Regions from separate parts of the Homo sapiens genome. Here regions 1 and 3 are each linked to region 2. The links come from fine-mapping of genetic effects on gene expression. A gene starts in region 2. Each other region holds a variant in brackets. All regions are shown on one strand. Distances are between the middles of the regions.

Region 1 (9,078 bases), 31 kb after region 2:
CGCAGCGCAGCACAGCCCGGCCATGGAGCACGCGGTGGCCCCCTGCGTCCTCTACCCAGGGACTGAGCCCGGGGCTGCCGGGGAGAGCGAGAGCGAGGGCGCCGCGTCCCCGGCGCAGACACCCTGCAGTCTCGGCGCGTCCCTGTGCTTCAGCTCCGGGGAAGAGTCCCCGCCGCAGTCCCTCGCCTCAGCGGCGGAAGGCGCGGCCACCTCCCCGCCCTCCAGCGGTGGCCCGCGGGTGGTGGAGCGGCAGTGGGAGGCCGGCAGCGCGGGCGCCGCGTCCCCGGAGGAGCTCGCGTCCCCTGAGGAGCGCGCGTGCCCGGAAGAGCCCGCGGCGCCGTCCCCCGAACCGCGCGTTTGGCTTGAGGACCCCGCGTCCCCCGAGGAGCCCGGGGAGCCCGCGCCCGTACCCCCGGGGTTCGGGGCGGTGTACGGGGAGCCGGACCTGGTGCTGGAGGTGTCGGGGCGCCGGCTGCGCGCGCACAAGGCGGTGCTGGCGGCGCGCAGCGACTACTTCCGCGCGCGCGCGTCGCGGGACGTGCTGCGGGTGCAGGGAGTGAGCCTGACGGCGCTGCGGCTGCTCCTCGCCGACGCCTACAGCGGGCGCATGGCGGGCGTGCGGCCCGACAACGTGGCCGAGGTGGTGGCCGGCGCGCGCCGCCTGCAGCTGCCCGGCGCCGCGCAGCGCGCCACCGACGCCGTGGGGCCGCAGCTGAGCCTGGCCAACTGCTACGAGGTCCTGAGCGCGGCCAAGCGGCAGCGGCTGAACGAGCTGCGCGACGCCGCCTACTGCTTCATGAGCGACCACTATCTGGAGGTGCTGCGCGAGCCCGCCGTGTTCGGCCGCCTGTCGGGCGCAGAGCGGGACCTGCTGCTGCGCCGCCGCCTGCGCGCCGGCCGCGCCCACCTCTTGGCCGCGGCGCTCGGGCCGGCGGGGGAGCGCGCGGGCAGCCGGCCTCAGAGCCCCTCGGGGGACGCGGACGCGCGCGGGGACGCGGCCGTCTACTGCTTCCACGCGGCGGCCGGAGAGTGGCGCGAGCTGACGCGGCTGCCCGAGGGCGCGCCGGCGCGGGGCTGCGGCCTGTGCGTCCTCTACAACTACCTCTTCGTGGCGGGCGGCGTGGCGCCCGCGGGCCCCGACGGCCGCGCGCGCCCGTCCGACCAGGTCTTCTGCTACAACCCGGCCACGGACAGCTGGAGCGCCGTGAGGCCCCTGCGCCAGGCGCGCTCGCAGCTGCGGCTGCTGGCCCTGGACGGTCACCTCTACGCCGTGGGCGGCGAGTGCCTGCTCAGCGTGGAGCGCTACGACCCGCGCGCCGACCGCTGGGCCCCCGTGGCGCCGCTGCCCCGGGGCGCCTTCGCCGTGGCGCATGAGGCCACCACCTGCCACGGCGAGATCTACGTGTCCGGGGGCTCCCTCTTCTATCGCCTGCTCAAGTATGACCCGCGGCGCGACGAGTGGCAGGAGTGCCCGTGCAGCAGCAGCCGCGAGCGCTCGGCCGACATGGTGGCTCTCGACGGCTTCATCTACCGCTTCGATCTGAGCGGCAGCCGCGGCGAGGCGCAGGCGGCGGGGCCGAGCGGGGTCAGCGTGTCCCGATACCACTGCCTGGCCAAGCAGTGGAGCCCGTGCGTCGCGCCCCTGCGCCTCCCCGGCGGCCCCACGGGCCTGCAGCCCTTCCGCTGCGCCGCCCTGGACGGCGCCATCTACTGCGTGAGCCGCGCGGGCACCTGGCGCTTCCAGCCTGCCCGGGAAGGCGAGGCCGGCGGCGACGCAGGCCAGGGCGGCGGCTTCGAGGCGCTGGGCGCCCCCTTGGACGTCCGGGGTGTGCTCATCCCGTTCGCTCTCAGCCTGCCTGAGAAGCCGCCCCGAGGGGAGCAGGGCGCCCCGTAGGCCGGCGGGGTCGGCGGGCGTCTCCCTCGGCAGGGGTTTGCGGGGCCCAGGTCCCTTTGGGCCCGCGGAGGAGGACGTGGTGGGGAGTCGGGGCCGCTGGCCACGCTGGTGGTTTGGACACTTCGAAGGAGCCCCGAGGACGCTCTCAGGGCCGCTTTCGCTTTGCTTTCCTTTTGCTTGTCTTTGCTTCTGGGGGTGGATGCCTTGAGACCCAGGAGGTGTGCGGATGGGTCCCTTGACAGACAGGACACAGAGAAGGCTGTGGGATCCAAAGGGTCAGCCTCAGGGTACAGTGGGGGTTCCTGAGGCAGCCTGCAGCCGGCCCCGGGGTGTCCCGAACCCCGCAGAGCACCGAGGCTGTGCGCAGGAGCCTGGGACCCTCAAGTAGGTCGCCGCGAACTATCGGGGGAAGCACGCAGAGAGGGTCACGCCTTTTATTTTTGGCTTGAGATTTAAAATTATAACTGATAAGTAAAGCTCTTTCTGATTTAGTTGAAAATTTCGTACCATGTGCTCGCTTTGGTTGGCTCAACTCCAAAAAGAGTAATTTAATAAGCATTAAAGGTAAAATCTTTGATTACCAGTAAGGTTTCTTGTTCAATATGCATTGGAAGTATTTCCTTCCCCACACCATTGCTACTCAAACTCACATGCCTAGAGCAGCTCCGTCTCACTGTTGGACCGAGGGGGCTTTCATATTTTCAGTTGAAAGGATGTTAACTGATGTAGCGATGATTTACCATTATTTAAATTTTAAGTCTTCAGTGGCTAAATGTGACCAAACAGCACATCATAAGTAGGAAAAACTTACCAGGGTGCTTGTCTATCTAAAAAGCAATCTTTGATAGTCCACTCTGTATGCCCAGCCGCTTTCATAATCTGGAACGAGATAAAATATTCCTAAAAAGCGGGGAAAATCATTTTGCTTTGACAGTTCTATAAAAAAAAGTGTAGGCACATTTTAAACCCACTGTATATGATGTTTTCAATGTGGATCGTGTAGTTCTGATGAGGGAGATTAATTTTTACAATCAGTATTCTAAGTGTGGCCGAGTGACAGTGGGCATAGATTTATAACAAGGAAGTGACGTGCTTATCACCATAGATTTGCAAGTAAACTGCATGTATTTAATTGTATTGAATTGAGTTCCAAAATACCCTAATAGAATTAACACGAGGCTCACTGCATTGACAGGGTATGAGGATTAAAAACAAATCAGTTGGGTCGTTTCTCATTTAACATTTTACTTTTCAAGTGTGTATACAGAGGACTTACTATTATGACTTTGAGGATGAGATCCATGCTCACAAATAGAGGCGAACATTTGAACTCCGAATCCAACCCATTTTCTTACTGTAAGAGGAAAAGTTACTGGAACGTAACTAGTTGAAATCCTGCCTACTTTAATATTATTTGTTTGTTAATCCAGTAATGGGAACTGCCATCTCTGTAGAAATCAGTGGGTAATTGAAAAATAGGTTATGCTTTTTAAAGAGTCTGTGGTTATGAGAGGTCTCAGTTAAGTGTGTTTAGAAGTGATCAGCTTGAACCTTATGCATGACTCGGGGGCTGGAATTTATGATCTGGGTTACGGTATGTTCTGGGGACGTGTCTGCTTGCCCATGGTTACTCATGAACTGAGGGGATAGCTTGGCAACTTGGTTAATCATCTTGGGAAAGAAAAACAGACTTCATATCGCCTGACTTGATTGGCCTTTTATAGGAGTATACTGGAGAAATGGTTGTAGAAACAGTATTTACAGCAAAAGGAAACAAATAATGTTCATTTTAAGCAATGTACCATTCACACTGTCCTGCCTTTTCCTCTAGAATTTTATTAATGGTAGAAATTTTTATATGAAATGGGACCAGGACCAGGCTAATATTTTCAGTCCTTAAATATCAAACTCATATGCTGTTATCACTGTGATTTTACTTGTGAAATCATTCCTGTAATGTTTATTGTTTGAAAATGAAATATTGAAATTAGGCTTCCAGAGTAACACTGTCCCCGGAAAAGGATATGAGAAGTGGTGGATGTTGGATGGGGGTGGTTGCACAGTCCTGTGCGGTTCCCATGGCTTTCCAGCGTTTCATTTAGTGAAGGAATGCTCACACTAGATGTAGCACAGCTTCCTGTGGGGCCCGGCAGCAAAGCCCCAGGTGCTCCCTGTCACCTCACAACAAAATGCACTAAGAAACGTAAAGAATAAGAGGAATTAATACCCACCATTAAAGGATGTCCGGCCAACCTATTGTGGAAATTTATAGAATAGTATACACCACAGTTCTGAATAGTGATATCACATAAAAATACATACTAGAGGACCTGCCACGCCATGAGCAGTGTTTTTGCTTTTTGGGGGCCAGTCCCTGGGGTGTGGAGCCGCTAGGGTTTGCACCCATGAAACAGAGAAAAGCCACACCCTCCAAGGTGTGGCTTTCATTTTGGGACTGCTGCAGGGAGGGCAGAGGCATTGCTGAGACTGCCTGGCAACGGCTGATGCCCCAGGTAGGACCTTTTCCAATTCAAAGTGGTGTTCTAAGTCTGCGTCCAACACTGTGTAGGAAAAAGGTTGGTGCAAAAATATTCCTGGTCATCCACCCATTAAAATAGTTAGATGAGGCTATTGCCTTGATGACAGCTGTCCACACTCCTCATGAAATTAACCCGTATGCCGGGGCATTTCCAAATGTCTGACTCGTGAAATTAACCCATACGCAGGGGCCTTTCCAAATGTCTGAAAAGGCAGTGGTGTCTTTTGGGGAAAATGTTATGCATGGAAGCCTGACCTTTTGCTTAGTTGACAGCAATCCCTTCTGTATTGCCAATCAAGGTTCATTTGAGATGCAGAGGAATGAGCTTGAGCCTTCCTCCTTTTCCTTCCGGTTTTATTCTTCCTCTTGGGAACATCCCTCCACTCCGCACTGCTTCCTGCAGCTTTGTAGAGCTGGATTTGGAACTTCGGGATTTGGTTTCTGAGTCTGTGGAGGCACCGACTTCT[G/C]CTGTAAGAAAATGAATGTTGTGGAAATTCTTTGGCTACTTAACTAAAACTCGTGACTGTATAAGTTTGGCTACAAATAAGTAAGAAATTAATCATCTGCTCTGTTTCTGCTAATTTCTGGTGTCACTTCAGTAATTCTGGTAGCAGCCGTTGAATCTGTCAGTCTCTTAGGTAACTTCCTGTAAACGATTTGGAAATAGGATGTTTTCAACGTTCTTTTGTCTTTTGCTGAAGTCAGGATAGATTCAAGACATAATCTCTTGTAAGATCTAAATAGAGCAAATGTAAACAAAAGTGCATTTTTGTATTCTTGTTAATTTTAGATGCTTTCCTAGCTTACAAAAAGTTCTGTTTTTGGGTTAAAAATCAATCAACTTTCTGATATTTCCCCTTCTGCAATGTTATTGTTCATAAGAAAACACGAGCTGAAAATGGAAATCTGCAGTTGTTTCAGTTGTCTTGAATTTCTTTCAGTGGCCACATCATTTCCACGTTTTCCACATCCGGGAGGAAGCCTGGACTGTGCAGCCTTCGGGCACCCGGCACAGACACTGTGCTGGCAGGAGCTTCAGACACGCCAAGTGGATGGATTTGGATTGAACGCATATGAAACAGGAGACGGGTTCTCATGTGAGATCAAAGCTCCTCCAAAGCCTGTTCAAGCTCTAAGCGATTCTCAAATGTTACCATTTATTAAAGGTAAACTACACCTGTTGAAGGCCAAGTTCAGGGCAGCTGTTGTGATCTGTGTAGTTAATGTATTTATTAATGCTTGACTTTTAAAATCCTGGGCATAAATAGTGCAGAGCCTCGTATGTTTGTCAGTTCATGCCGAGATGAAATAAATCACGCAGAAAGTGCCAGTCCTCCTGATGTGCCCCGAGTGCTTTTCTCTTTCTCCACAGCGAGCGTCAGATGCGGCTTTTTCTCCTGTGAATCAGGGAGCGTAGCTCTGCCTGCGGGACCCAGGGTTGACACGTCCTGCCCGTTAAGTGAGGAACTGCCCTCACCGGCTCCTGAAGCTCCCCTGGCACAGAGGTTCTAAGTTGGGGTGTCTGTTCCCACTCCCAGGTGCCCTGGATTCCTCGGTCTGCTCACGGGTCCCAGCGGGGGATCACGGCACACCACCTAGGACCTCGGGAACACCAGGATGGGCTGCACAGGAGCAGGTGGAAGCCGAGGCCAGCGCCTAGACTTTGGTTCCTAGGGAAGGCAGGTTGGGGGAGCTGCTTCGCTGCACTGGTTTGTGTCCTTCCAGTGGGCTTTGTGCTATCACGGTGGTCTCCAGTTGCCTGGTACCGGGCCCAGGGGTGATACAGGGCAGGGCTTGTGTGTGAGAGTAGCTGAGGAGGGCTTGGGGGTGTGGACTGCGGCCAGTTGGTCTGGCCATGAGCTCCCAGCCAAGCCCTTCCCATCTCTAAGAATGAGCTGACTCAGGAGGACAGCCTGTCCCTGGCCAGGCCAGCAAGCTGTAAGATGCCAAAACATCACAAAGCACAGAAAATGAAAGAGGTGGTCAGTAGGACCGTCAGGCACAGTCCCCTGCCCCTGGAGTGGGTCGGGAGGTACCAGGGTGGGCAGGGAAGAGCATTAGGGCCATCCCACGTCTTCCCCGGTGTCCTGTCCCCTTCCACCAGCAGCACCTCCTCCATGAAATTTCCCAGTTGCAGTGGGGCTTGGGGGAACTAATGTAGAACATGTCCTCCCGCCCACCCCCCAGGTAAGAACGAACTGAGAAACGGCTCAGCAGCCAGGCAGGTGGGACTCACAGCCACTGCTTCACCCGCAGGGGCTGTGCCAGAGAGTGGTGCTGGGTTTGTTGCCACGTGGGCTTGTGAAGGCCACCGGAGTCAGTGCACACATCCTACCACCCCAGGGGGTCATATGCACTCAGCCCCCACCCCAGGGTGTCAGATACACTCAGCCCCACCCCAGGGTGTCACTTGCACTCAGCCGCACCCCAGGGGGTCATATGCACTCAGCCCCTACCCCAGGATGTCAGATGCACTCAGCCCCCACCCCAGGGTGTCAGATGCACTCAGGCCTATCCCAGGGTATCAGTTGCACTCAGCCCCCACCCCAGGGTGTCAGATGCACTCACCCCCCCACCCCAGGGTGTCAGATGCACTCAGCCCCAACCCCAGGGGGTCAGATGCACTCAGCCCCCACCCCAGGGTATCAGATGCACTCAGCCCCCACCCAAGGGTGTCAGATGCACTCAGCCCCAATCCCAGGGGGTCAGATGCACTCAGCCCCCCACCCCCTACAGGGTATCAGGACACCAGGACTCCTGGAGGATGCAGCTCCCAGAACTCCCTGTGAGTGAGCACAGAGCCCTGCTCCTGGGGGGCAGGTCCCATGGGAGAGCCCAGATGTGAGGGAAGGGCTGCTCCCCACATTCCTCCCCTGGGGAGAAGAGGCTGGGGTAGGAGCTGCAGAGAGGCCAGGACCAGGAGCCTCAGAAATTTCCTTGCAATGGAAACAGGCCTGGAGCCACGTTCCCCGGGGATGCACCTGTCCTCTCGTGGCCACTCCATGTCCTGGGGGAGCACAGGGGTAGGTGCCTTTGCATGTTTCTGAGCCGTTGGAGCTTAGAGATCACTCTCTGCCCTCAGACTGGGCTGAGGTCGGATTAGAATGTTAAATACCAGGCAGGGCCTCGTATTTAACCACTGGGGTCTTCAGGACCCCGTGGCCTCCAGCGTCTCCAGTGCCGACCCCAAGGCCCAAGTGTGGGCCTCGAACCCAGCTCGACACAGGAGGGGTGGCCTCGAGCCCCGCACCCGCAATGGAAAAGGACACGGGCCTCACAGGCTCCTGGGGTCTTCACTGAGACAGCTGAGGAAGAAAACGGTCTGGAGCCGATGAAAGGCGTGGCCAGGATGAGGGAGGAAGACGCTCCTTCCCGTCCCGTGTGCTTGAGGCGTGGGCCGAGTGAACGCTGTGGTGAGACCTGGTGCTCCTGCATGTCGCCACCACCCTGCCCTCAGAGCAGATAAGGCCATGGCCGTGACGACACCCAGCCATCGGGCCACCTGGGCTTCTTTCTTCCTCTGATCCGAAGACACCCTCCTCCACCCTCACCTGGCCTCCTACCAAGGAAAAGTTTGAGTTGAAAACCTGTAGACACAAACATTTTTCTTTTTTCTTTTTCGTGTGCTTCTTTTTTTTGTGATGGGGTCTCCCTCTGTTTCTCCCTCTGTCGCCCAGGCTGGAGGGCAGTGGTGCACTCTCAGCTCACTGCAGCCTCCAACTCCTGGGCTCAAGTGATCCTCCCGCCTCAGCCTCCTGAGTAGCTGGGACCACAGGTGCATGCCACCATGGTCAACTAATGTTTTTAGTTCTGGTAGCGATGGGGTCTCACTGTGTTGCCCAGGCTTGTGTCAGACTCCTGGCCCTAAGCTGTCTTCCTGCCTCAGCCTCCCAAAGTACTGGGATTAAGGTGTGAGCCACTGCAGCAGGCCCAAACGTTTCTAGACACAATTTGTACTTGAGCCAGAACCAAGTGTTATTGTTCATTTGTCAGGGGTCTTGAAAAAATTATTTTTCCTCTTAAAATCTTTATTTTTCATGCACTCAGCCCCAACCCCAGGGGGTCAGATGCACTCAGCCCCCACCCCAGGGTGTCAGATGCACTCAGCCCCACCTCAGGGTATCAGCTGCACTCAGCCCCAACCCCAGGGGGTCAGATGCACTCAGCCCCCCACCCCAGGGGGTCAGATGCACTCAGCCCCCACCCCCCACAGGGTATCAGGGCACCAGGACTCCTAGAGGATGCAGCTCCCAGAGCTGCATCCCAAAAAAAGGAATGTTGCTAAAAGTATATTCGTAAGCAGAGTGGAGACAGAAGCTCTCCAACCTGAAGTTGTTATCTTAGTTTTTCTCATAGCATTTTCTTCTGTGGAAATAGAATTCTGTTTGAACTCTTCTATGGCGTCACCATTTTCCCCTGCTGAGCTTTAGGATTTTTATAATAAATGAGAATGGTTTTCTTAGCTGAGTATTTTGAATATTTTAAACCTGATATAACACCAGGAAACACGTGGGCCTTTTAGACTGAGGCAATGAATCTTATAAATTGAGGCAAAAGAAAGAAGTGAGAACAATTTGCAGAAGTCTAATATTCTTGCTCAGTGAGAAAGGGGGACTTTTCACCTCTTCAGACAAATGAAATTAAA
Region 2 (10,717 bases):
CATGTTTCAGATTTAAAACATCTATTTTACATGTTTCAGATTTAAAACATATATTTTATATGTTTTAGATTTAAAACATAAATTTATATATAAAATATATATTTATAAATTTATATATAAAATATATATTTATAAATTTATATATAAAATATATATTTATAAATTTATATATAAAATACATATTTATAAATTTATATAAAATCTATATTTATAAATTTATATATAAAATCTGTATTTATAAATTTTATATGGAAAATGTATATTTATAAATTTTATATGGAAAATGTATATTTATAAATTTTATATGGAAAATGTATATTTATAAATTTTATATGGAAAATGTATATTTATAAATATATTATATATTATATATAATAAAATATATATAAAATATATTTTTATATTATGTAATATATATTTTTATATTTTATATATAAATATATATTTTATATTTTATATATAAATATATATTTTATATTTTATATATAATATATATTTATATATTTATATATTTATATATATTTATATATTTATAGATTTTATAAATAATAAAATCTATAAATCTATAAATCTATAAATCTATATAAATATATATAAATATATAAATATAAATATAACATAAAATTTATATTTAAAATACATAAATATATATATTTGAGACAGGGTCTCACTGTGTTGCTCCAGCTGGAGTGCAGTGGCGCAATCATGGCTCAGAGCAGCCTCAACCTCCCAGGCTCAAGCAATCCTCTCACTTCGGCCTCCTGAGTAGCTGGGACTACAGGTGCACGCCAGCACGCCCGGCTAATGTTTTGTATTTTTGTGGAGACAGGGTTTCTCCATGTTGCCCAGGCTGGTCTCCAACTCCTAGGCTCAGGCAATCTGCCCGCCTCAGCCTCCCAAAGTGCTGGGACCACAGATGTGAGTCACTGCCCCCGACCCTCAAAATATTTTAAATTGCAGCTAACTTGCTCTAACATTATTAATATATGCCTTGAAACTATTTTAAAGTAATGGTTGCCATCTTATTTCCTTTATTTTTCTGAAAAATGGTTACTAGGATTCCCCCTAATAAACGTACTGGCCATGTGGAGACAGCAGCGTTAATTCACTGGCAGAGCGTGTTGCCTGTGGGTAACCTGCAATCTGCTTGAGGGAACCACGTGCCCAGGCCCCTGCAGCCCCTGGGAGAGCCTGTCAGGGATGATGAGCAATGGGCATTTGGGCTCAACAGGCCTCACTCCTTCATTTAGTCAACAATTACCGAGCTTGGCTTCATGCCCTCACATTGCTGGGCCCAGGGGTACAAAACTAAAAAGCATGGCCTCCGTTTCCCTATTCGAATCAGGACAATTAGGGTATCATCTTAAACCTGGGACTGTCTGTAATTTAAAATTTGGGGTCCAGGCACGGTGGCTCACGCCTGTAATCCCAGCGCTTTGGGAGGCCGAGGTGGGTGGATCACCTCAGGTCAGGAGTTTGAGACCAGACTGACCAACGTGGTGAAACCCCATCTCTATTAAAAATAAAAAAAATTAGCCGGGCGTGGTGGCACACACCTGTAATCCCAACTACTCGGGAGTCTGAGGCAGGAGAATCACGTGAACCCGGAAGGTGGAGGTTGTAGTACGCTGAGATCACACCATTCCACTTCACACTGGGCAACAAGAGCGAAACTGTCTCAAAAAAATAAAATTTGGGGAATGACATGCTTAGCACATGGCCAATGCATGTTTGCTATCGATAGTCAATAGTGGACAATATCAAAGAGGACTTAGGAACACACTGTTTCCTTAATATGAGGGTCTCAGGCGCTGGCTGGTAACATAGGTGGAGAGACTGACATAAGGAAAGAGCTTCACAGTATTTAAGCAGCAGCTTGCGACAAAAACGCAATTGCACACAGTTCATCAGAGCTGAGGAAGCACTGAAGTAGGTAAGGTTCACCTAAGGGAGTGCCAGGGCCGGGTAAGGTTCACCTAAGGGAGTGCCAGGGCCGGGTAAGGTTCACCTAAGGGAGTGCCAAGGCCAAGACTACTTTTGTACAATATGCACAGAATTTTTTAATGAACCAGTGAGTGTTGTTTCAAAGCCAACACATATATTCTAATTATTTCTTCATGCCAAGAAGCTGGAAGTACTTTATAGCAATTGGCTCCATTCCTGACAGTTATTGGGATTTAACAGCTTTATTGGCTGGGGGAGGAACACATGAACTCCTAAGGGCTAATACAAGCATTTGGGAAATTATCTGTTGTCTGGCGTCAGCACTGGAACAGGGCAGCAGAGCTGGAGAGTAAGAAGCAGAGCTGGAGAGGAAGAAGTGTTTGCTAAGTCACCGCGCAGGAGGAGACAGAATCAGAGGTGACGAATGTAAGTCCACCCATTGGCTTAAGATCCAGTATCCTGAGTGAGTTGCACAGATCCTCTCCTTCAGTCCTCTCAGGTAGGTGCAGTGGTGTCTCCCTGGAGCACAGAGAGGCCAAGTATCTGGCTCCAAATCACAAGACTTGCAGAGGGTAAGGCTGGTGTCTAAGGTCCCATCAGTTGAACTCCAAAGCAGGCTGTCTAGAAATTGGGTTCAGAGACCTCCCAGCCTGGAACCCAGTTTGATGGAGTCCCGCATTCAGGGGCCAGTAAACCACTGTACCCTGGACAACTCCATAAGCTTCGGTTATATTTTTAGGGCGGTTTTGCATGTTGAAATATTTGCATGCTTCGAGTCTACCATGCATGATCAGGCTGTCCCTGACCAGGGGAAAATTTACATAGTAAAATAGTATTACCCTTGAAATAGATTTAAGATAGGTCCTCCTTTTTCTTGACAGTATTACAACCCAGTTCAATTTCAGGAACTCTAGAGGTCCCTGCAGTTATGAAGAACTAATTAAAGGCATGAAATGTTCCTCTGCAAGTTTCATTGACCATATTGGGCCTACAGTCCATTTCCAAATAAATATCTAAGGTAAGAAAAATATGGGACTCCCCACAGACTACTTATCTACCAGATGGTGTGGGGTTTGGATGGATGTTTTCAGTTACTTCAGCAATTTTTTCATTAATTCAGTATTTATTGAGAACCTAATGTATGCCAAGCTTGTAAAATGCAGTGGGGGGTATGACCTATTCCCAGGTCTCTGGACTCTGGCAGAATGGTAGAGAAGATGCTGTCGGGCTTGCATGTTCAGAACACCGTGTCTTAGGTGACCTCCCGGGCCTTTGGAGGCCCAACCCCAGGGTGGCGGGATAGCCAGGTGAGGCTTTGTTTGGCCTGTTCACGTTTCTCTGGAAAAGAATGGGGGTAGTTAGGCCAGGCGCGGTGGCTCATGCCTGTAATCCCAGCACTTTGGGAGGCCAAGACAGGTGGATCACTTGAGGTCAGGAGATCGAGACCAGCCTGGCCAATGTACAGTGAAACCCTGTCTCTACTAAAAATACAAAATTTAGCTGGGTGTGGTGGTGCATGCCTGTAGTCACAGCTACTTGGGAGGCTGAGGCAGGAGAATTGCTTGAACCCAGGACGCAGAGATCGCAGTGAGCCGAGATTGCACCACTGCATTCCAGCCTGGGCGACAGAGTGAGACTCCATCTCTAAAAAAAAACAAAAGAGAAAAAGAAGTATTATTCTGCAGCCGAAAGGAAGTAGAGATGCACTAAGAAGATCACAGTAGAGTTTGGAACATTTTTGGAGTAAACTGAACAAAATAAAAACGGAGCAGCATGGGAATTATTTTAGCTTCCACCAAAAGGGTCTGTTTCTGCTATAGTTAACGGAAGTTTTCAATTTTCAAAAAATCCCAGTAGCTCGCTGAGTTTCAGCCTCCTGTAATTCAAGTACTGACAGCAGGTACTACTCTTCTTGGCAACAGAGTGAAAAAGGTTTTAAAGATGTTCCCGGGGCGTTAGCTTTGGTGCTGGAGTTGTAACGGCTCATTATGTGTATACAGCATGGAACTGGCAAAGACTGTCACAAGCAAAAAGAACACAAAAAGAGAAAGTAAAGGCTCTGGCTCTCGGTACTTATGGAAATCTCATCGTCATTAATTTGCACAAAGCCATTAAAAATAGCATTTACCAGCAGGGGTCCAGCGTTAATTAGAACCCAGCCTGGGAGCAGCTGGAACTCTCGGCGCTCCTGGCTCAGTCCTCGCCGCCCTGAACCCGTCTGCACCGCAGGGCCCGAGTGGGAGGCAGAGGCCACATTTCTGGATATGAGCAAAAGCTCCGACATTTCGTCCACTCTCGTGTTGTGAACTTTAAAAAATTCTGGAATCTGTTGAGAATTTGGCAATAAGTTTTTAACCACTAAATATGTCAACAACGCATCGCCTCTACTTTTACCAAAAAATAGGCGCACGAAACTCCGCTGTTTGCGCCCGCGGACACCTGTCCCCGCCTCCTCGCAGGAAGCGGCCCCCGCGCGTGGGCGCGGGCTCGGGCTCGGGCTCGAGTGGCGACGTGGGCCGCGGTCCTGGAGGGGGAGAAGCGCCCGGCGGGCAGGCGCGGGGCAGGGAAGCCCCGGGGAACCCACAGCCCCTCCGCAGACCCAGCCAGGGGGCGCGCGCCCGAAAACGCCCCGTGTGCACGCGCCCGCCCCCCTCCCCGCGCCCCGCGCGCGCCCCTCGCAGCCTGGAGCCGGAGCGCTGGCTCCGCGCGGCCTGGAGAGGCGGAGAGGCCTGTCCACCGCCCCCTCTGCCGCCCACGCCCCGCTGCGGGTCGGAGGAGCAGCTCCCGCTCGCAGGTGCTCGGAGAGGCCGGGCCGCGGCTCCCACAGGTGCCGGGAAGCGGCCGCGCGCATGCGCCGGAGCCCACCCGCCTGGCTGCGCGTCCCGGGCCCGGCGGCTGAAGAGGAGCCGCGGCGAGGTAGGGCGGACCCCGGGGAGGCAGCGGCGGGGCCTGGCGGGCGGAGCGGGAAGCAGCCCGAGGCGCGGGTCGGAGGGGGCGGCGGGTGGGAGGTGGTCGGCGAGAGCGGCAGTAGGCGGGAGGGGAGAAAAGGGGAGGCCGGCAGGGGAGAGGCGGGGAGGGGAGGCCGGCAGGGGAGGGAGGGGAGCGGAGCGGAGGGGAGGGGAGGGGGGACCGGGAGAGGAGGGGGCAGCGCTGCCCGCGGCGGGGTGGGCGGCGGTGGGTGGTCTCCGCTCCGCCTCCGGGAGGCCGCGTGGGGGGCGTGGGGGCCTCCTCGCGGGGTCTCCACAGGCCCTCCCCCGGGACGCGGCAACCCCGGCCGGAAGACAATGAGCCGCCCGCGCCGCGCCCGCAGTCACCGCCCCCGCCGAGGGTCCCGCCGCCCCAGCCGGCACGGAAGCAGGAGCAGAAGCCGAAGCCAAGCGCGCGGGGCCAGGGCGGGGGCTCCTCCCGGGGTTGCTCCGCTTGGCTCTCGGCGGTCGCGGGGATCGGCTGTCCGGAGCGAACGGGGGTCTCTCCTGGACTCGGGGCCCTGGGGAGGGGAGCGCGGCCCTTGGTCCTCCGCCGCTGCGCCCGGGGTGCGGGGGTGTCCTGGCTGCTGACCCCCGCGAGCCCCGAGCACCGCGACCCACCCGCCCCACCGCGCCGCGGCTCCCGAGTCCTGCCGGGCGCCCCTTGCAGCCCCCGCCCCATGTGCTGGGGAGACCCCCGGGCGGTCTGGGCGGGATTCCGCAGGGGTCCCTCCTCTCAGGCGGGGCTCATTCTGGAGCATGAAAAGAGGGTGAACCAAAGTCCCTCCACCTCTTTAGAGTCCTACAAAACCACGTTTCCCCCTCCACCCACTCCAGTGTCTATTCTAAGGAAAAGAAAAGGAACAAATCAGTGCAGCGAGCTTTATTCTACTCAGCCCACGAAAGGCGCCGCCGTCAGATTTTAAAGTTCCAGCCATCCCCTCAGGCCCTGAGTGAGAAGTTCGCCCGATTCCCCGCGGTTCCCGCCTCCATTTCCCACTAAGGAGCAGTTACTCAGGCTCCAATTAGGACCCCTTAATGGATGTCAATGGAACCCTTCAGCCTTTTATCCTGAGCTAATAGTGTGCTATTATTAGAATAATCCTCCCCATTCCTGACATCACGGAAGGGAGCGTTCCATTGCCTTCAGATTTGCTCCAGCAACAACCTCGTGTGTGCAGATTTATGGTAACTGGCATTGCAATGCTCCCATCAGGGCATAACTAAGTAAAAATTGTAATGAGGTAAAGCCTTTGAACTTTCCATGTCAGTTGCACAGGCATTGCTGGCCATAGCATTGGACAGCACATAATAAAATCAGTTAAAAGATGTTGCTTACATTATAGTGATGTGTAGCACAGCCACGTTCGGATCAATTACAGACCGCCAAGTTGACGGTGGTCCTGTAAGATTATAAAACTGTTTTCCCTGTGTCTTTTTCATGCTTAGAAATGTGTAGATACACAAACACCATTGTGTTACAATTGCCTGCGGTATTGTGCACGCTGCACAGGTGTGCAGTCTGGAGCAGGAGTCTGTGCAGTGGAGCACAGGTGTGTAGCAGGCTGCACCGCCTAGGTGTGTAGGTGCCCTGTGTGATGTTTGCACAGTGATGAAGTTATCTAACTATCATTTCTCAGAACCTGTCTGCATCTGAACCATTCGTGACTGTATTTAAGCCAGCATTGGGCTTGGGAGGAGGGGAGAAAGCTTAAATGTTGTGGCTCTGAGACTAAAGAAATTCCCAGGGAGCAGGACTCTGTGTTGACTGATGTCTGGGCCTAACTTGAACCTCAGAGCACCTTGCTCTGGGTGGATGGAAGAATCCGGAAAGGTGGTTTGGAGCTTATCGCATCATTTGTAAACTCCAATACAAACCCGCTTCAATGGGGTTTCCATATGTTCCGGTACAGGTAGCAACCTTGGCAGTGGGAGCCCAGCAGGTCCCGTCTTTGTCCCTGTGCTGATACAGAGAGACTCTCCGTGCTGTGGACGCCTCCATCTGGGCACATGTTTCAGTTGTTTTCTAAATACCAAGAGCACAGATTGCTCAGTAATAATAGCTCTCCTGCAAATCTGGAATCACTTAGGCAGCTGCAGTGCCTCTAAGCCTCCTTGCATCCAAGGCTGTGATCAAGGAGGACTGGTGTCTGAGTGGGCTTGAGAAGGGCCCGGAGAACAGCGGGTTTCCTGATCACAAATCAGCCTGTCATTCAGCATGTGTTCCCTTGGTGACTCAGGGCGATATCTGCCCTTCTCCGGAGGTCAAGGGCTCATCGTGTCAATTGTGGTCTTGAGTTTGTTTTTTTTTTCCTCTTGAAATCATTGTAATTAAGCTAAAAGTATAGTGTTGGTATCCAGCACATGTTTGCAAAGTATTTAACAATGAGCAAAAACTTTAAGAATAAATTAAAGCATCTAGTTTACTTTTTGCCAACAGCCAGGTTCCTGCTAGAAATGATTTTGAAATAAATGTTGTCTTGGAAATAGAAACCGTTGCATGTCTTATGTGCATTTTGTTTGAAGGATTAGCATGAATTTCCTTCTCTTCTGAATATTTGTGGAGTTCCCCTGCTCCCCCACCCCCCACCCTGCTGTGGGTCAGGCTCAGTCCTAGGTGCTGGGAATACAGTTGTAAGTAAAGTCAGCCTAGTTCTCTGCTATCTGCAGCTGAGACGTTAATACAGTGAAAGGCATTCAGCATATAATTACGTTAATTCTTAGGTAATAACACACGGAGATGAGTGCGTTGAAGGAGAGGAATACATTCCCTTGAATGCACGTAACAGAGGAATGTTAGGCCGAGAACTAAGGGATGAGAGGGGTGGCTCAGGAGCCCAGGAGGGGACAGTTTGCGGGAACATTGTGTGCAAAGGCCCTGTGGTGAGGACTAGAGCACGGAGAGGTCAGTGAGGGGCGCTGGAGCAGGGTGTAGTAAAAGTGTAATGTCAGCCGATTTTATGGCTGAGTTAAATTGATGGAGCTTCACACTTTAGAGCAAGGTCCTCCAACCCATGGGCCACGAGCCACATGTGGCCCAGGACAGCTTTGAATGAGGCCCAACACAGATTTGTAAACTTTCTTAAAACATTATGAGTTTTTTTTTTTTTTAAGCTCATCATCTATCATTAGTGTTAGTCTATTTTATGTGTGACCCAAGACAATTCTTCCAGTGTGGCCCACGGAAGCCAAAAGATTGGAGACCCCTGCTTTAGAGCTTGACTGAGTTTCATATGGATTAATTTTGTAGCATGGAGACTTCCCGAGTCCTAAAGTGAAATCATTAAATAGGAAGATGCACATAGAATGTTTTGTAAATGAAAAACCACGGTGCCGATGTTAGCTGGTATTGTTACTGTTTTATTAGAAAGGTGTAGAGTCGTGGGGACATACATATGGGTGTGGTTCTATGAAGTGTACCATCTTTGTCCTGGCCACCTCCATCTCATGCTTGGACTCCTGCAGTAGTCTCTGGAGAGGCTCTGCACATCCTCTCTTTGAACAGGTCCTCCTGCAGTAGTCAGAACAATGATTTTTATTATTATTATTATATTTTGAGATGGAGTCTGGCTCTGTCATCCAGGCTGGAATCCAGTGGCACCATGTCAGCTCACGGCAACCTCCGCCTCCAGGGTTCAAGCAATTCTCATGTCTCAGTCTCTCGAGTAGCTGGGATTACAGGCGCCCTCCAGCACACCCAACTTATTTATTTATTTTTTTTTGTAGTTTTAGTAGAGATGGGGTCTCAGCATGTTAGCCAGGCTGGTCTCGAACTCCTGGCCTCAAGTGATCTTCCTGCCTTGGCCTCCCAAAGTGCTGGGATTACAGGCATGAACCACCACTCCCAGCTCAGAGCAATTATTTTTTAAAATTCTTACAATAGTGGGCCTTTCATAGCTTCCCATTCCTGCAAGATGCAGTTCACAGTTCTGAATATTCGTATCACGACCCTTGTTCCAATATCATGGTGGTTCAATAAGCCATGCACAGCTTAGTGGCTTAAAACAATAGCATTTATTTATATTTTAAGTTGCAGGGTACATGTGCGGGAGGTGCAGTTTTGTTACATAGGTAAACGTGTGCCATGGTGGTTTGTTGCACCTGTCAACCCATCACCTAGGTATTAAGCCCAGCAGGCATTAGCTCTTTATCCTGATGCTCTCCCTCCGCCGCCCTCTACAGGCCCCAGTGTGTGTTGTTCCCCTCCCTGAGTCCATGTGTTCTCATCATTCAGCTCCCACTTATAAGTGAGAACGTGGTGTTTGGTTTTCTGTTCCTGTATTCGTAGCAATAGCATTCATTTTGCTTAAAAGTCTGCAGTCTCGCTGGGCACAGCTCACCTTGGTGCCACTCAGCACCAGATGCGGAGCTTGAAGGCCAAGGGCTGGAACCATGGAGGCCACTGACTTGCTGCCTGAGGCTTGCGCCAGGAGGATTCACACACTGGGGGCTGGCGCAGCAGGGGCCCCTCGGGGACCTTCCCCTGTCACTGTGTGACCGTCCATGTACTCGCTGCAGCGTGGCAGCCTTGATGCAGTGGACTCCCTGTGTGTTGAGTCAGGGTCACCACGGACTGTGACCTGAGAAAACAGCCAGGTGGAACCGGGTCACCTTTCTCACGAGGCGGGGAGGTCATGTTGTGTTGCTTCCCCCTCAGTCCCTGGCCTGCCACGTAGAAGGGGAGGGAACGGGGTCTCAACTGTGAGCGCAGGGGAATCTCACTGGGCGGGATGGGCGTGCCGAGCAGGGTTCATCCATGCGGCATGTTTGGAAAATAGAATCTGCTCTTTCCACTAAGGTCATGTCCCTTCCACATAAAAAAGGCTACGGCGATCCCCAAGTCTCATCCTGTTGTGGCATCAAGACTTGGGCTCCAGGAAGTCATCATGGAAGTCAGGTGTGAAAGTGCCTCCCTGGGTTCCAGTCCTTCCTCTAATGCAAAGGCTGGTGTTCCAAAGCAATGAGAGACCCACCCCCAGCCCACAGTGCACAGCCCTGGGCAGGCACAGGAGAACTGCTGTAGGCCCTCGTGCTGGTCAGGGTTCTCCAGGGAAACACAACCAACTGGGTACATGTGTGTGCATGTGTGTGCATGTGTCTGCACGTGTGAGAGGGATTAGAGAGCAAGATTGAAGGACCTGGCTCATCCGATGGTGGTGGGGCAAGTCTGAGATCTGCAGGGCAGGCCGGCAGGCTGGATAGCCAGGGAAGTGCTGGCATTGCAGTCCCTCCTCCTCGGGAACCTCCGCCTTTTTAAGGCTTTGACTGATTGGACGAGGCCCACCCATATTGTGAATAGAAACATGCTTTACTCAAAATCTTCCCATGTAAATGTTAATCATGTCTTTAAAAAACACCCTTAGGCCAGGTGCAGTGGCTCACGCCTGTAATCCCAGCACTTTGGGAGGCCGAGGTAGGCAGATCACTTGAGGTCAGGAGTTTGAGACCAGCCTGGCCAACATGGTGAAACCCCGTCTCTACTAAAAACACAAAAATTAGCCAGGTGTGGTGGCACGCACTTGTGATCCCAGCTACTTGGGAGGCTGAGGCATGGGAATTGCATGACCCAGGGGGCGGAGGTTGCAGTGAGCCGAGATTGCGCCACTGCACTCCAGCCTGGGCTACAGAGTGAGACTCTGTCTCAAAACAAAACCCTTCATAGTGACATTTGGACTGTGATTGACTAAATATCTGGGTACTGTGGCCTAGCCAAGGGGACACATAAAAGTACCTATCATAACCTTCCTGTTCAGAAAGGGAGAAGTGTGTGGCAGACAGGGGTGTGTGGCCCACGCGGTCCTGAAGTG
Region 3 (9,641 bases), 140 kb after region 2:
GGGAGCTGTTGGGAGCTTGGGCGGTCCTCTTCCTTTCCCAGTGGACGGCAGCACCTACCCTGTACATCACCTGTTGAATATCCACTTGGCCAATACACCAGCAGGGACAGAACAGTCAGATGTGAAGTTGCCCTTACAGAGACTGTCACGGAGTCAAAGAAATACACCTTCAATTAGAGGAGGACAGAGAAGAAAGATAGAACCCAGGTTATATTAAAACAGTACAGTAAACACTCTCAGAATTCAGAGAAGGCAGAGAGTTGAAGAGGCTGAAGTAGTCAGGAAGGATTTCAAGGGTAGAGGGTTATTGAAATGGGTGTTAAGGAGGTAGAAATCATGGGTCGGGGGGTGGGGGTCAGGGATGGGAGGGAGAGAATGAGACATTCCAAGCCGCTCTAGTGCACAGAGAGTGGGGAATGATCAGGGAATAGCGACACAGGGAAGTGGAGGGGTGGGCTCAACGGAGGGGGCTGTTTGCCTGAGTGATCTTAGGAAATAGTGTTGGGGAATAGGAGTGGGGTCAGAAGATACAGACTTTGAATGTCAGGCAGAAGAACTTAGAAACAATGCTGAAGAAAATGAACACAGAGAGAGAAACTGAACCAAGTGGCCAGTTTGCTAATATTCGTCTTCTAAAGCCTCTCCGGTGGCACTGGCATTTGCAATATCAAAACAGAAATGTAAACTCAGAGAGAAAGAAGAACATGTGAAAACAAATGCACGTGATTTATCAGAAGAAGGTTGCTGATTTTCTGGCTAAACTTACATTGTCACCTGCAGATAGAAATTCTCTGCAGTATTGCTGCTAAGGCAAGGGCTGTGAGAGGAGTGTGGTTCCAAGGGCTGACGGAGTCTTCTCCCGCTACGCCTGCCTCATTTGCCGAGCACCACAGGTTATTAGTTTTTTGTTTTGCTCATGTGGCCCCAAGAGCCTCCTTGGGTCCTGGGTAAGATCATTATTCAGGCTGGAAAGCCTTTGCCCCAATTCCAGCTGAGATCGATCCGACAGGTAGATGCAGATCTGCAGAAAATATTGACAGCAGCTGAGACTACCGTATTGGTAACGCTGGGCACGAGGAAGCCGAGGCCGGGCATCCACACTCCCGTGATTCTACGGTGGCATGGCTGGGGCGAGTCCCGCGCTGGACATTGGATTCCCTCGACGCCATCGTGCCTTGCATTACTGCTGCATTTAGGATGAGTCACACACTGGGATGTGGTCCTTCTACCGTCAAGACCCTGCTCAATGTCAGACACTGTATCATCCAGGTGGAGTACAACACAATCCACTAGCAGCCATAACACCTTTCAGTATCTGTTAGCACATCCCAAAGGCTGAGTGAGCAGAGGTGTGGGGAAGGTGAGCTGGGAGCAGGTGAAGGCCTTGGGAGGTCTCTACCCCAGATGCTGCCTGGGGTGGGGCTTCTGTGCCCAGGGTGTGGCTGCACCAAGGCAGGGAGGTCAAAGAGGGTGGTGCAGGGGGTTAGCTGTTGAAGGAAGAGAGGTGACAGTTGCAGCCAGGGATGGAGGAAGGACCGACTGGGACAGGTTCATAGTTTCAGCCGATGACTGATCTGGAGGGGAAGGTCTCAGTTGATCAAGAAGGCTTCTCAGGTCTGCACTGGGAAGGAAGTTCCGGTCCTGACCATGTCCGCGGGCTCTCACCTAGAAGCATAATTATCTTCCAAAATTGCTCAGTGTCACTTAGTAGTGTCAGAGACCACAGCCACCTCAATGCCACAGATGGCAGGGTGAGCTAAGCCCCCTCCAGCTGACTTTCTCATCAGAACCTTGTTGGACATGTGTTTGGTATTTCTCACTGCCAGGCATGATGCTGGGCACAGCGTGAGGCTGCAGGGATGAGTAAGGCCATGCCTGCTCTCAGGGGCTCATTGTCTGGCGAGACAGACAGACGGCAGGTGGATAGGTAGGGTGGGGAGGGTGCTCCCAAGGGCAGGGTGCTATTGGGGGAAGGGAGGCAGAGCTGTGGAAACCCCATAAAACACCAAGCCTCACCCGGGGGCATCAGGGAAGTCTCCCTTGGAGCCAGTCACAAGGGCTGCATTCGGGTGAGGTGGCCACGACAAGGATGGGCAGAAGCTGCACTGTTGCAGAGAGGCCTGCAAGCTCAGAACTTTGGGGCATGGCCCTCAGGGAACTCCAAGGCATGAAATGTATCCCTGCATTCATCACCAAAGCAGCAGAGAGGCAGGTAGTCCAGGCTTCTGTGGACTGTTCCTGTGATACAGTGTAACCTAGAAATCATGAAGTGATGCAAAGTAGTGTTCTCAGACCAACCAACAGCCTTCCAGTCTTTCTCCTATCTTAGCAACAAGACAGCTGCACTGCAGGCAGGGAGGGGGAACTGTGTGGGCAAATGTTTGTGGTTTGGTTGTATGCATTATATATGACAAAATTTCTTCTTTCCCCCTTTTTTTGAGACAGAGTCTCACTCTGTTGCCCAGGCTGGAGTGCAGTGACTGTGATCTCGGTTCACTGCATCCTCTGCCTCCTGAGTTCAAGCTCATGCCTCAGCCTTCTGAGTAGCTGGGATTACAGGCGTGCGCCACCACACCTGGCTAATTCTTGTATTTTTAGTAGAGTTGGAGTTTCACCATGTTGGCCAAGCTGGTCTCGAACTCCCCACCTCAGGTGATCTGCCCACCTTGGCCTCCCAAAGTGCTGGGATTACAGGTGTGAGCCACTGCACCCAGCCTAACAAAATTTCTTTTTTCTTTTTATTTTTTTGAGACAGGGTCTTTCTCTGTTGCCCAAGCGATCCTCCTGCCTCAGCCTTCCCTGTAGCTGGGACCACAGGGATGTGACAAATTTATATACTGCTACACAGGAAAACTCGTTTTCAGAATTACAAGGAAGAGATGGTCTAATATATTAAGAACATATATTGGCAAAGACCAATACCATATGAAATTGGTTTGAAACAGTTCTAAAAATTACACAGGCTGATTGATGTTTTGAAAGGTTTCATTAGAATTAGAGTTATTTAAGTGAAAAAGTGAAATTTAAGTATTAATATTAATTTATAACTTTAATAATTATCAAGAAGCACAAAAAGGTAAAAATATCAAGCCCCCAAATAAGGCAACCAGCAAAAAAAAAACAAAAAACAAACAAACAAAACATAAAAAAGAGAAATAAGCATTAATAAAGATGGGGAAAATGGTTTTAGTGAAGTTAAAAAGTTAATAAGTAAACATCACAAAATCAGAGGGAAACAAAAGATCAAATTTGCTCAATTCATCTGTGTGTTAGAGAAACACTTGTTCTTTGACTTGTAGGATTACCTAAATAGAACACATTCATATGTATCTGTGCATGTACTGTAGAATAAAATGAAACATTTAAAAAATAAAAGCGATCAAAAAAGTCAACACCTGTTGGAGGTCCATTTATCCTTTCCTCACCTGAAACCCCTGCACCCTGATGGACCACAGCAGGCTGGGGCTTGTGGGTGCTGTGTCCCGGGAGCTGAAGATGACAGTGGCTGTGGAGATTGCCTGTTGTTGCTATCCATGTGGGATTTTTGTCATCAGCTGGTGATCGTTATCATTCATATCAATTGCGTATCATTTTATTTTCTCCTGTGAATTTTATCTGCTTCACGTTAGTAACTCATTCTTGGGTAGGTGTGGAGTCTCTGCCTAGAAGGTCCCTGGTTTGGACTCTCAGATCTCCTCACACAGCCAGGCTTTGTCACTGAGTGACAGCTCATACCCACTGTTTGATCCTTGTTCACCCAGAGGTTTCCTTGATAAAATTTCATTTTGGTTTCTTCCTATCATAATCCCTTGAGATCTCATGGCTGATGCAATTGTTAAATGTTGCAAGGGAAAACTAGGAGAGATTTCCTTGTATAATTCTCCATTTCCCTTGTTTTGCTTGCAGATACACAGAATTAAATGTGACAAAGCTACTGGCATTATTGAGATGGTGATGGATCGATTTAGTATTGAAAATGAGGGGACCTACACTGTGCAGATTCATGATGGGAAAGCCAAAAGTCAGTCTTCTCTAGTTCTTATTGGAGATGGTATGCTATATCGAATATTTCCACGTCCATACAAGATAATTCAAATGAAATTCTTTTGACTGGAGAGAAGCAAACATGTTTCATATATATTTTTTTAAATATTGAATTTAGCATTCAAGACTGTGCTGGAAGAGGCTGAGTTTCAAAGGAAAGAATTTCTCAGGAAACAAGGTGAGTTTCCTCACTCTGACCGGCTCCCCTGCCCCTAGCATAAAGCAAAGATGATTGGAGTATTTGTCAGAAGCAGATCTTGCATGATCCCAAGCAACCCTAAAGGCTGTTTTAAATGATTAAGAGGTTAGGCTTACCAACTGCATAGGAAAGGAACCTGCTTTATAGCAGGGGAGTGAAGAGGAAAGCGTGCCTCTAGCTTTAATGTCCAGACGGAGTCCAGCAATTTTAATGAAAAGAATAAAGAATGGGGGTAGAGGAGGTGGTGGCTTCATTTGGCTTTGAAATGTAGAGAAGGCAGTAGAGGCTATTCCTATCACCAGGAAATTGCTCATTCTACTTAAGATTGTGGGAGCTGTTAAACTTTCTAACTACAAACAATATGTTTTAAATAGATTGCTTTTACAAATACATGTTAACTAGATACAAAGGAAAATGGATACACTTTAGATTCTCAAACATACCCCAAGGGTTTATTCAAAGAATTTTTTTTCTTTTTTGAGATGGAGTCTTGCTCTGTTGCCCAGGCTGGAGTGCGGTGATGCCATCTTGGCTCACTGCAAGCTCCGCCTCCCGGGTTCACGCCGTTCTCCTGCCTCAGCCTCCCGAATAGCTGGGACTACAGGCGCCCGCCACTATGCCCGGTTAATTTTTTCTGTATTTTTAGTAGAGACGGACGGGGTTTCACCGTGTTAACCAGGATGGTCTC[G/C]ATCTCCTGACCTCGTGATCCGCCCGCCTTGGCCTCCCAAAGTGCTGGGATTACAGGGGTGATCCACTGCGCCCAGCCTCAAAAAACATTTTTATATATGGGATTTCTGAACTTCTTGAGAAAAATTAGAATGTGAATTATGAAACATAAAATCAAAACATTCATTTTTATTATTTTTCATTGTTTTTATTTCTAATAGTCACAAATATTTTACTTACTTCTACATTATGAACATTTTTGGGCCAACTTTGTAGGATGTATTTATGTATATGAAAGAAGTGAACACATACTTTCCAAATCTGCTTTGTATTTTTGCATTGAATGGCAAAAGGGTATTAGTGTATGACTTATTCCTACATGTATTTTAAATAAAAATGATTAACATTTTTTAAAAACATATATAAACCTGTCTTTGATTTTGAATGCTATCTAAAGAAAATGTGTTTTACAAAATTGCTAGGTCAAACTGTTGTTTCTTTATCTCATATCTATTCTCTTATTTAAAGGTATTATTTACCATGTTGTCGAATGTTCAGTTAGACATATACTTTGGGAAACAAAATATAATTATTTCAATAGCCTCCTTTCTGAAGAGCAATAGATATGAGATGTCAGTAAGAAGGAGCCATCAGACGTACGCTCCTACCAGGAAGCACAGATTCCAGTGGAGAATCAGTGTTAACACGTGTCGACATCCCAGGCCTGAAAACTATCTCAGTTTCATCCTCCACAGCTATTGTGTTCTGCCAAAAATGCATTACATAAATATATATAATACATTCTTATGTATTATATATACACACCATGCATATATGTGTGGGTATATATATATAATAGCTATATATTTATTTGTTTACTTTTTCCTTTTTTATATGTTTTCTTCCCTTTTTTCCTCCCTAGGCCCTCATTTTGCTGAGTACTTGCACTGGGATGTCACGGAAGAATGTGAAGTTCGACTTGTTTGCAAGGTGAGAAACCCGGTTCTAACAGGAAAACAATAAATCTCATTCTGGTTCCTATCAGAGAGGCCTTTCAGGGAGTAGCTGTGGCCAGATCTGTGATGCTGGTGAGGAAACGTGTGGTGCCTGTGTAGCTGCGGATGGGCGGAGTGGCTTTTGGGTCCTGTGGACTTTTTAATACTTGGACTTCAGTGCTTATCTTTTCTTCTTCACGAAAAGATTACAGTGTAGTGGGATGCAATGGAAGGTTGGATTATAAAAATTTTACTTAAACGATTATTAAGTGAGTTTATGAGAAAGTGTGCCCTGGTGAAATACACCTAGAAGTGCTGCTCATACGAGTTCATCAGGAAAGGAAAGGCATGCTTTGGAGACAAGATACTTCTTTCAGTTTCGTTTAACAATGTAGTAATGAAATATGTTTTATTACTAAATATAAAAATCTGTTTTTTAAGCAGCAAATCTTCAATTTAATAACTGCCTACTATTTGACTGTCTCAGGATGAGGGGATGGGGGAAAAAGATCAATAATGCATTGTTTTTACTCCCAAACTAGTTTCTTATTGTCTACTGGATAAGAGAGAAAAGTAAACAGACAGTTTCAATAAAGAGATGATTCGTGAGCTGCGTGTGCCAAGGGGACTAAGAATTATGCAGGCCAGTGAGTGGGAAAAGATGGTTCTAGGAAGATCCAGCAGCAGGGAGGGACAGAGAAGCTGAACTGTGCACTTAAAAATAAAAACAATAAAAAACCCAAGGCTGGTGGGCAAGTGGGGCATTCCCCTGCAGGACCCAGAGGCTGGCCATGGACTGAGAGGGTACAGAGCACCTGAGGGCTGTTAGTGCAGTGACACGGGCTGCTGGTTGACAAGGAAGGCTGGAGGTGGCAGGGCTGGAGGACGACGCTTCAGTAGGCTGCTGAGAGATGGTAACTCCAGCAGGGCAGTTTCATATCCACCGAGAGAAGGAGATTTAGGATACACATCCAGCAGTTAAAACCAGCAGGGGCTGGCAAGTAGCTGGGTGTGGGTGAGAGGGAAGTGTACTGGAGGACCGAGTGGGTGTGATATTTCTTGAGATCAGCACTGTACGGGGAGGGCCAAGTTTTAGGGTTTTGAGAATACATTCAATTTCACAAAGATTTAGTTATATCCGTGGAATGGTCAGTAAGGCATAACCGGCTCACGACAGGACATGTGAACCTGGCAGCAATGGGAAAGTCATCTGGAGCATGTGGATTCATGAGATATCGTGTGTGGATTCATGAGGTATTGGGAATGCTTGGCTGTGGACATGACGCAAGTGGGTCAAGCTGCCAAAGGACAGCCTTTAGAGACAGGAACATCACAAACAATTGGGGCATTCTGGAAAATTCAGATTGTCAGAGGAGAAGAGGAGACCAGCTCCAGGATTATTAAGCAGAAACCCTCAGAGAGTTCAGAGGGAAAGCAAGTGACTTGGTGGCCTCTGGCAGGGAGGGACTTTGGAGTGAAGCGCTGCGTGGCCGGGTGAGGAGGGGCGGCTGGAGGCAGCGCTGCATGGCCGGCTGAGCAGGGACAGCTGGAGGCAGCACGGGCTGGGTGCTGGGCTTTCCAACCCCACTCCCTGGCAAGGCAGGGTCTCTACGTGGTGGGCTGAGGAGATGGGACACAAGGGGGGATACGAGCAGGAGCCCGCTGCCCTCTGAGGTGCTCAGCTGGCAGTGAGGGAGAGCGAGGGGAGTCAGGGTGGCTTTGTCTTTCCTTCTGGATGGAGACGCTCAATCCTATTTATAGGCAGAGGGGTCAGTGGAAGAGGACTCACAGGTGAAGGAAGGGGAGCACATGGGGACACAGGAGGGGCAGTGCTGGCCTGGAGGGAGATGAGACCAGGTCAGCACAGCCATGCAAGGGGCTGCTTGGCCCCCAGGGCAGCTCCCTGTGAAGGACAATGAGGGGGCGGGGGGGATGCCAAAAACCAGGGCAGAGCAAGCGGCAGATCCATCAGTGCAGCCCGTTGGTTTCACACTCTTTCCAGTGAAGGGTTGGAGGGTGTTGAAGATGAGGAAGGTAGCCCACAGTGGGGGGAGTGGCAGGAGTGGGCTGTGATTGCCACTGAAGGAGGCAAGACAGCAGCTCCTTATTAAGAATGGAAATCATTGTTGAGTGCATCAACGTGGAGATAGCTCGTAGTGGCCCACATAGGGGTGCTGGGATTGATTTTTCCAGATGTGGCCAGTGACCTAGTGTGAGTCAGGGGACAGACTCATGATTGGGGTCTTGCTGGATGGAAGTTGCAAGAAGGGAAGATGGAATAGGAACTTTGGGTCTTGTTTAACTGTCGTTAGTTGGTCAACCAGCTGTCTAAGTTGAGCAGGAAAGTGAGGCCAGGCGGGATAAATGGAGAGGAGGCAGGGCTAAGCCTTGGTGATCTCCACTTGGCCACCTCAGCGGGGACACTGGGGTGTGAGCTTGTTGATGAGCCTAAGTGTCAGGTGGGGACCTGCCGTGAAGAGCAAGTGCGTGCCTGTGGAGCAGAGGTCTGCAGTGCACTCGGGAGTGGACCCGGGCAAGGGGATTTGCAGGAGGATGGGGCATGGGGGTTTGGAACTAGGTGGCTGTTGAACACACCCTAGATAGGTGCAGGTTACTCCTAGAAATTTGTGTGATGAAAGGAACCGTCTTACTATTCTGACCATCCTCAGTATTGGTAATTAATTTGCAATTTGATTTCCTGTATATATATATATATATTATATTATATATAAATATATAATATATATATTTTAATTGCCAATCTAATTGCTTACTGTCTCTTAAATCAATACTGTTTTCCCTTCCTCTCTTCTTGAAAGAAATTTATATAGATATATAATTGATAATACATTATATATATATTAGTGATAACTAGAGCTAAGGCTTTGATTTGATAGGTTCGATAACATGCTCAAGGTTGTGGTAAATTTATTATAGAAAAATACTTAGATTTATTTTTGGTAGTGAATTTCTTGCACTAGTGTGTTTAAAAGGAAGATTCAGAAATGAAAACATTTATAAAAGAAGAGAAGGTTACTTGCAAGGAAGCTGCAAGGGAAGTGGTCTTTAGAAGTCTTGCTCAACAAATGAAAAGCATAATGGACATTTAAAGGGAAGAATCCTGCCAGGTGACTGATGATAGCCTGTGTATGTAGTCCATTCATGCTGCAAAAACAACTTTCTCAAATTATTTACCCTGCACAGAAAGGTATGTTTCTTCCAAATTTTAGACATCAGCACTGCAAAAATCAGTTCCTTAGGGAGTCAGCAACTCAAAGCCCAGAGCAAGTCAGTGTGACTTGGTTATGGTGCTGGTTTATTCTTTTTGTTGTTGTTGGTATTGTTGTTCTGACCGTGCCATACAAGGTGTGTGTGCACTCCCAAGGCCAGTGGCGAGACCCCCGAGTTCTGCTTTCCATGGGCTCTGATATCATCTTAGTGGGATAGAACCGTCTATAAATATTTAAAATTATTTTAGGTTCCCTGACTAAAGTGATTCATAAATCTTTAAACACAGATATTGGGAAAACTAATATTACTTGAGGTTTGAGGGTTTTTTGTGCAATTTAATACATTTGATTTACATACTTGTGTCCCTGTCAAGCCTGTGATTCGGTGCACCATTTTGTCTACAGGGTTTTTCATTTAATAATGTGGTGCAGATGGTTATTTTAAAAATTATTAACGTGAAAAAATAGATGGAGAAAAACTTATGCAAGGATGCAGTCACATTGTAA

Evidence for each region.
Region 1: its variant is fine-mapped to the expression of KBTBD11 in whole blood (INTERVAL, PIP above 0.99).
Region 3: its variant is fine-mapped to the expression of KBTBD11 in whole blood (TOPMed, PIP above 0.99).

Annotation. Positions count from the first base shown.
Region 1 is chr8:2,001,171-2,010,248 of GRCh38, forward strand. It overlaps KBTBD11 (kelch repeat and BTB domain containing 11), which reads left to right. Exons shown (of 2, transcript NM_014867.3): 2 at 1-5,766. The coding sequence starts at 23. The coding sequence ends at 1,894. Among named protein-coding and RNA genes, the nearest start is that of KBTBD11, 32 kb to the left of the region's middle. The variant G/C (reference allele first, on the strand shown) is at 4,901.
Region 2 is chr8:1,969,076-1,979,792 of GRCh38, forward strand. KBTBD11 (kelch repeat and BTB domain containing 11) reads left to right here and starts at 4,602. Exons shown (of 2, transcript NM_014867.3): 1 at 4,602-4,860. It overlaps KBTBD11-AS1 (KBTBD11 antisense RNA 1), which reads right to left and starts at 4,270. Exons shown (of 3, transcript NR_136275.1): 1 at 4,073-4,270; 2 at 3,465-3,588; 3 at 2,104-3,282. KBTBD11-OT1 (KBTBD11 overlapping transcript 1) reads left to right here and starts at 2,322. Exons shown (of 3, transcript NR_126346.1): 1 at 2,322-2,443; 2 at 2,850-2,962; 3 at 6,824-7,369. RefSeq lists enhancers at 8,912-9,471, 9,472-10,030.
Region 3 is chr8:2,112,054-2,121,694 of GRCh38, forward strand. It overlaps MYOM2 (myomesin 2), which reads left to right. Exons shown (of 37, transcript NM_003970.4): 26 at 3,907-4,051; 27 at 4,163-4,222; 28 at 5,832-5,899. Among named protein-coding and RNA genes, the nearest start is that of MIR7160, 40 kb to the left of the region's middle. The variant G/C (reference allele first, on the strand shown) is at 4,932.